2 linked regions of the Homo sapiens genome follow. The protein of the gene in region 1 interacts with the protein of each later gene in a pairwise test. Each region holds a gene or a part of one and is shown in the gene's direction. Other genes may lie near its edges.

Evidence for each region.
Region 2: the proteins of KCTD19 (region 1) and CCDC33 interact in a two-hybrid assay, tested with the Homo sapiens proteins (one large-scale study listed by BioGRID).

Annotation. Positions count from the first base shown.
Region 1 is NC_000016.10:67,299,236-67,303,047, reverse strand, and holds part of KCTD19 (BTB/POZ domain-containing protein KCTD19), read left to right. Parts: intron 1-1,125; coding exon 1,126-1,257; intron 1,258-3,474; coding exon 3,475-3,685; intron 3,686-3,812. UniProt on the Homo sapiens protein: Transcription regulator which is essential for male fertility and for the completion of meiotic prophase in spermatocytes. Regulates progression of the pachytene stage of meiotic prophase and promotes the transcriptional activation activity ZNF541.
Region 2 is NC_000015.10:74,270,523-74,274,334, forward strand, and holds part of CCDC33 (coiled-coil domain-containing protein 33), read left to right. Parts: intron 1-1,180; coding exon 1,181-1,272; intron 1,273-2,248; coding exon 2,249-2,369; intron 2,370-3,812.

The DNA of each region.
Region 1 (3,812 bases):
GCCTCAGGAGCTTCCCTGGGCAGAGGTAGCGGAAGCATGACAGAGCCTTCCAGGAAGCAAGCAGATTCCAGCATTAGAATCTCACTAGACTCAGGGCTGTTTTATTCCCTATTTGTTTTGGGATGGCCTGGCTGTAAAAGTGTCAGGCACTGGAAAGTGCTAGGGACCACAGGAGTTGGTGTGAAGGGCAGGGAGCTCAGCTGGTTGCCAGTCGGCTTCTCTTCTTACTCTGCCCTTATGTATCCAGCTGGTCTTCCGGCCTCAGTTCCTCTCACCATAAAATGAGGAATCCAGATTGTTTCAAAGGATGGTGCTACCTGCTCTTAATGTCAGCAAACTCAGAATAAAAGGGAAGGAGGGTGGATGGTGACAGGTTCCCCCAGAGTCATAGCAGAATTGTCCACTTGAGGTAGTGGCCTAAGGAAGGATGAGATTTTCCACCTTTGACAGAGAGAGCCTCTCTCCCCCTACTGCCCCAGGATGAGCTCTGTTTGGGATGTGAACTGAATGATCTCTTTGACCCCAAGATGCTACTGCTGTCTAGATAGATAGGGCAGTAAACACTCAAGTTACACTAGGAGCCCAAATGTCTGGAACCCCAGTCATTCATATTCATAGTCACCTAGAAAGTTGTCTGTGATGTGCTTCTGTATCTCTAAGTTGATTCACACAGGACATTAGCGTTGGCTCCATCTCTGCCTCCCATACTGCAGTCCAGGCAGGGACAAACTGCAAGTGCCACCCGCCAGCCCAGGCTCGGCCGGGCCCCTCCTCTCTAAGCAGCAAGACAACTCCCTCTTTTGGAATGACCTGCTCTTGGGTCAAAACTCACAGGGTAAGTCTCAGGGCCAGTGTGCCCACCAGGAGGGCCTGGCTTGGGAGCCCCAGGCCAAGCCACGGGAGGCCACACCCACGGCCTCAGACACAGGAAAACAAAGTAATGTGGGGTCTTTCGCCTTGAAAACCACACACTCAAAGCTAATCTAATAAGGTATGTTGATAAGTTGTTTCAGAACAAGGAGAACCTAGGATAAGTTACAGCACCAGAAACCTGCCAAAACCAGGACCTACAGCTAAACCAGAAATAGCCTCATTAACTCACTGTGTTCCCCTTTGTTTTTCAAGTGAATTTTCTTCGCTCACAGAAGATTTTACTACCGGATAATTTCTCCAACATTGATGTATTAGAAGCAGAAGTGGAAATTCTGGAAATCCCTGCACTCACTGAAGCCGTAAGGTGGTACCGGATGAACATGGGTATGTCGCCAGGAAACCTTGGCTCCCCCTCGACAGTCTTGGCTTGACCTGGAAAAGCCAAGAACAATCTTCCCTCCCACAATCACTTCGGGCTTTGGGGGTTAGTGAGAGGATTGGGTTTTCTGGCTGACTCTGAATCCAAGAAGAGGATTCACAGCCTGAAACCCTGTGTGCTGCCCTGCCGGCTCAGCCTTCCCACTGAGGGTGGGGAGTGGGCAACCAGCCAGGGGTGTAGAAAGCCCAGCCCAGCCTGGATCAGGAGGAGCCCAGCCTGGGTGGGGAGCCAGGCTGGAATGTCCTGGGCCTGAAGGCAGGCTTCTCAGGGGCAGGGGAGGTCTGCCCTGCTTGTGAAAGTGGTGGGGACTAAGAGCACCCACCAGCCACTCCCATCCTTCCTCTTCCAGGCACGGTTGGAGGTGTGGGAAATGCTCAGTGCTTCATGCATCTCATCCACCCCCAAATTCCCTCGTCACCTCACGTGGAAACCCCCGGCTGCTGTGCCTGTTTCTGCCTATTCCTGACGCTTGCTGACCCCTGTCCAGCCTAGGCCTTCGTGCTCCCAGCCCTACCTCATTCCAGCTTGTTCTTCCCCTCATGGTTTCCTCAGGGCTGTTCATCATTCCATTTCCCAACTCCACCTCCATGGAAGCTACTGTGCATGTTATAGGGCGCAAGCTACCTGAGCATGGCTTCAGCCACCATCCCGAGAATGTGTAGAACTGCATTGCACATGGGAAGTTTGGCCTGGACATCACCAGACATTTATCCCATGGCAATCAGGCCTTTCCTTATCTTCAGGCATAGATTTCCCAGCCTTCTCCCAGACAAATAGAAACCCATCCTCTTGGCCAGGCGCTGGTGGCTGATGCCTGTAATCTCAGCATTTTGAGAGGCCAACGCAAGTGGCTCACTTGAGGTCAGGAGTTCGAGACCAGCCTGGCCAACATGGTGAAACCCCATCTCTACTAAAATACAAAAATTAGCCGGGCATGGTGGCACGCACCTGTAATCCCACTACTTGGGAAGCTGAGGCAGGAGAATCGCTTGAACCCAGGAGGTGGAGGCTGCAGTGAGCCGAGATCATGCCACTGCACTCAAGCCTGGGCAACAGAGTGAGACTCCTTCTCAAAAAAGAAACCCATCCTCTTTGTGGGGAGTGGCATGCTCCAGCAGGTCTCAGGACCCTGTCCCAGGGCCTTATAATCCGCTTAAGATGGTGTGAGTTCAGCCCCTTCCCTCAAAGCCTTCTACTCCTCAGAGAACATAGATCATTGTGAGATGGTAGCGTAGTCCCTGCTCCACAGAGCAATGCAAAGATGGAGGAAGTGTGTTGACAGCCAGGCTCTGGGAGCTGGCAGCACTCCTCAAACACAAAGGGTGGCTTTAGCTTTCTACAAAGCATCACAATAAGGGAAACAGCTGTGGTAACCTTGGAGCTGGACAGAGCTGACCTCAAATCCTAGCCCTGCCCCTGCCTAGCTTTGCAGTTTAGGGCAAGATACTTCATTAGCCTCTCAGGGCAGGTTCTTCAACGTGAAATGATGATAGCACTATCCCCTCTTGCAGGGTTGCTCTGAGGATTGGAGATGATCCACGAACATCCCCCAGCAGTGTGCCCACTGGCACATTGTTGCCACGGGAGCAGGGTCCTGAAGGCTGTGATAACTGTATTCTCTGGACTGTACCCTAGGCCCACTATAGGAGAAAAAGGTCCCATCCATAAACCAGCAACCCAAATACCCACCCTGAAAATAATGCCACACAGTATGTCTCTGGGGGAAATTCTGCCCAGGAGAGCCAGCAACAGGGGCTGTGAATCCAGGAAGCCTGTAACACACATTGAGTTTCCAGGCCATGGTTGCCGTTCTTTACCTTTGGATGGTTACAGAAGAGCTTGGAACTAATGAAGACTCCTGCAGAGGCTAGGGCCAGATGGCTGCTTTCCTGAAACTTAGGAAATTCAGATGCTAGTGATACAGCAAATGAATCCCCCCACTCCCAACTCACCTCCCAACAAATAGTTATGACTTCTAAGCCTGAGTATACAAAAAAATTATACTAATTTTGAGAAGATCTTGATTTGGACTGTGCAAAGAAATATCCTTCCTCTGAGCCTCCTCGGTACAATGGAGGCAGCAGTAGGAACCGAGCCCCAAAGCCTCCAATCCAGCTATGACCATGGGGGGCCTAGGAGTCACCCCTTTCTCTCTGACACAGGTGGCTGTTCCCCGACCACCTGTTCTCCCCTGAGCCCCGGGAAGGGGGCCCGCACAGCCAGCCTGGAGTCCGTGAAACCGCTCTACACAATGGCCCTGGGTCTGCTGGTCAAGTACCCGGACTCTGCGCTGGGCCAGCTTCGCATCGAGAGCACGCTAGACGGAAGCCGACTGTACATCACAGGGAATGGCGTCCTCTTTCAGCACGTCAAGTGAGGTCCTCCTTAGGGCACACTGAGTCCCATCACCCTTGGCTCTGCCCTTCCCTCTAGGAATAACCTGGGGCCTTTCCCACTAGCCAGAGGTGAAGTGTGTCCTTGGGGCCAGCCCATCATTTTA
Region 2 (3,812 bases), on another chromosome or scaffold:
CAAATTGCCTGGGAAAGAGGATGGATTAGGGAAAGGAACAGAAGTGGAGAGGCTAGTGAGGAGGCAGAGGAATCGAAGGAGCAAGAGGAATGAGAGCCGAGTGGGAGGTGGGTGAGGGCTGAGGGAGAGTGGGAGCCATTGGTGGATACAGGGTGAGGGTCAGGGTCCGGGAGATCAGGGCCTCTTAGGCTGGCAGCAGAGGCGCATGGGGACAGACTCCCTGTCTCCCCTGTCTGCCTTCCAGTGTCCCCCAGGCCCAGACTGAGCAGGGGGTCAGTGAGGGTTGGAGCAAGGTGACGCTGTCCACTCCTGCTTTGTAACCTCCTGCTGGGACCCCGCTCGGCTCTCTGAAAGCTGCGCCAATAGAAGCCTGGAGTAGAGGAGAGGGCAGTCAGGACTGGGAGGCAGGGAAGCCTTTAGGGGGTGACAGAGGACTGAGGAGGGAACAACCAAGGGCGGTCAGGGGAGTGACAACCGGGATCTGATGAAGAAAGAGGAGCCCAGAGATGCGGATGCTATGATCCTGTTCCAAACCAGTACTTCCTGGGGAAACCAGCAAGGCAGGAGAGCAGGCACCAGGGTGAGCAGTGGAGCAGGCACCAGGGTGATGGGCACGAGGGAGGCAAGGGGAGCCTGGCTGTGGCCGCTGATCTCAGGAAGTTCAGCATGGTCGGAGAAACCAGACCTGGGCTTCCTGTCTTCAGTTTATAAAGTGCTCTCTCACAAACGATCTAATCAGAGACCCCTCACAGCCCTGGGAGGAGCCTCATTTGACTGACAGAAACCAAGGAGCTGGAACACCTAGCCCTACCCCTAGCCCAACCCCTCCCCAGGAGCCAGTGGAGGGGCCGAGGTTAGAACACAACCTCCCTTCCCAGGACCCAACTCTCATCGTACCCTTTCTCCCCAAAGAAACTAGTGTAAGAGATCCATTGGTAAATCCCAGGACAGAAAGCGGGAGCAGTTGCCTCAGCTCGGCAGAGAAGGCTTCCTGAGGGAGGGCAGCCTGGTGCAAAGCAAGAACCGAGTAAGGCAGGGAACAGGGAGAAGCAGGTGTCAAGTGTGGAGGCAGCCATGAGCTCACGGATGGGGAAAAAGAGGGTAGGCAGTCTGGCTGGCTGTCTCTGGAAGGTCCCAAGGCCACATGGTGTTCACCTGCCTCCTCTCCTCTCCTCTCCAGATCTTTCTCCGGGGAGTCAACGAGCCCCTGGCCAACAACCCCAACCCCATAGTGGTGATTGCCCGGGTCGTTCCCAACTACAAGGAATTTAAGTGAGTGGGGCCCAGGTGGACCTGGGTGAGGAGGGCAGAGCAGAGGGCAGAGGAGGGGGTGAGGCTGTCATTGCTGCCATGGGCTGATTCCAGGACCTCCGGCAACCCCTCTACCCCTAAGGCCCTTCAAGCCTCTCCATTGGGTCTGAGGTCCCAGTAAGCTTCCTGCAGCAGACCATGCCTTTCTTTCCCCAGGGAGAGCCCAGGCCCCTGGAAAGGGGCAGCTCAGTCCTCTCCTGAGAGCAAGCTGGAGGGCAGGTGGTGGGGATGAGTGCCGATACCAGGCCTAACAGCTAGAGAGTGTGGGGAGGACAACAAGAGGGGTCCTCATTCCCTGCTCAGGGAACCTCAGCCCCTCCAACCTGCCTCCCTGCCTCACACCCACCACCTCCCCACTCCCCCTCCCACTCTAGCTCAGGGCCACAGGCTCCAGCCAGTGGTTGGCCCCAAAGGCCATCTTGGAACTTCACAGCCTTTAGCCCTGCCGGGCGGAGTCTCCTCCCTCCTCATCCTGGAGGTCTCCCTGGTCCCAGCCACAACTCATCCCCTCCTCCCCTAGACCTCCTTTTGAGTCTGTTGGAGTCACAGTCCTCAAGAGGAGATTCATACTTTGCCACACAGTGGGAAATTCCCCTATGAACGTGTGCTCTCTGCCACAGCACCGACTCCTGGGAGTCAGGGTCTGTCTTGGTCACTTCCAACTGGCCCTGATGGCCCAAGATGACTCCCCTACTTCTCTGTATCTCCTGTTGAGTTTTTATGACTTATGAAGCCCCCTTGCTTGTTGGAGGAAGGAAGATGATTGATGCACGCCCAGCCCAGTGGTCCCCACTTGTCGTGAGGTCCAGGCCCGAACTCGGCGGGATCCCTGCAACTCCCTTCTCTTGCATCAACCCAGAGTCTAAGCGGGGGGCCCTGGGCTGCCAGGCTCAGGTGCAGAGCCCAGAGCACTGACCCTGTCTCCCTGCCTCCCCAGGGTCAGCCAGGCTAACAGGGACCTGGCCTCTGTGGGGCTGCCCATCACCCCACTGTCCTTCCCTATCCCGTCCATGATGAACTTTGACGTGCCTCGCGTCAGCCAGAACGGATGCCCTCAGGTATGTCTCCTCCCCAGTGGTTCCAGCTTCCTGTAACTACCCCACACATTCACTGTTCACTCACTCAGTGAGTCAGTCAGCAGTTCCCTTGACTATCGAGTAAGAGTTGACTGAATCCCACGGCATACCCAGTGCTGTGCTCGCCTGTGCGGCAGAGAAACTGCCCTCCAGGAACTCTTGGTCTGGTGAAGATGGGAGTCACGTGGGTGAAAAAGTTGAACATCAACACAAGATAATGTATAATCTAATAACAAACTGGGAGGGCCTGTCAGGGCTATCACATCAGAGGAGAAGATACAAAAGGACAAATATATGATTCCACTTATATGGGATACCTAGAATAGGAAAATTCAGAGTCAGAATGTAGAACAGTGGCTACAGGGGCTGGGGAAAGGGAAGAATGGGGAGTTACAGGTCATAAGTACCTAGTTTCCGTTTCAAGTGATGAAAAGTCCTGGAAATAGATAGTGGTGATGGTTACACAACAATACGAACAAATGAATGCATTTAACATTACCGAACTGTACATTAAAAATGGCTACAATGGTGAATGTTGTGTTACGTATATTTTAACCCAGTAAAAAAATTTTTTTTGAGACAGAGCCTCGCTCTTGTCTCCCAGGCTGGAGTGCAGTGGCGCAGTCTTGGCTCACTGCAACCTCTGCCTCCCGGGTTCAAGCAATTCTCCTGCCTCAGCCTCTCGAGTAGCTGGGCTTATAGGCACATGCCACCATGCCTGGCTAATTTTTATCCTTTTAGTAGAGACAGGGTTTCACCATGTCGGCCAGGCTGGTCTCGAACTCCTGACCTCAGGTGATCCACCCGCTTTGGCCTCCCAAAAGGCTGGGATTACAGGCATGAGTCACTGCGCCCAGCGAAAAATTTTTTTTAATCAGAGGAGAGGGATGTAAAGCCTGGATTAGGGAAGGCAGTCTTGAATTTTTTTTTTTTTTTTTGAGACAGAGTCTTGCTCTTGTTGCCCAGGCTGGAGTGCAGTGGCACCATCTTGGCTCACTAGCAACCTCCGCCTCCCAGGTTCAAGCAATTCTCCTGCCTCAGCCTCCCAGGTAGCTGGGATTACTGGCACCCGCCACCATGCCCGGCTAATTTTTGTATTTTCAGTAGAGATGGAGTTTCACCATGTTGGCCAGGCTGGTCTCAAACTCCTGACCTTGTGACCTGTCCACCTCGGCCTCCCAAAGTGCTGGAATTACAGGCATGAGCCACTGCACTCAGCCGGCAGTCTTGAATTTTTAACAGAGGAAGGGTTGGTACAGGTTGGACACAGCAATAGCACAAGTGTGAGGTGGAGACAGGCAGGCTATGACCCATGTCAGGGCAGACAGGAGGGCTGTGTGTTTGAGTATGAGGTTGGGGGCGGGTGCACGCACAGAACATGGCTGGGTTCAGGGGAATAGCCAGATTGGTCTCTTCTCATGATCT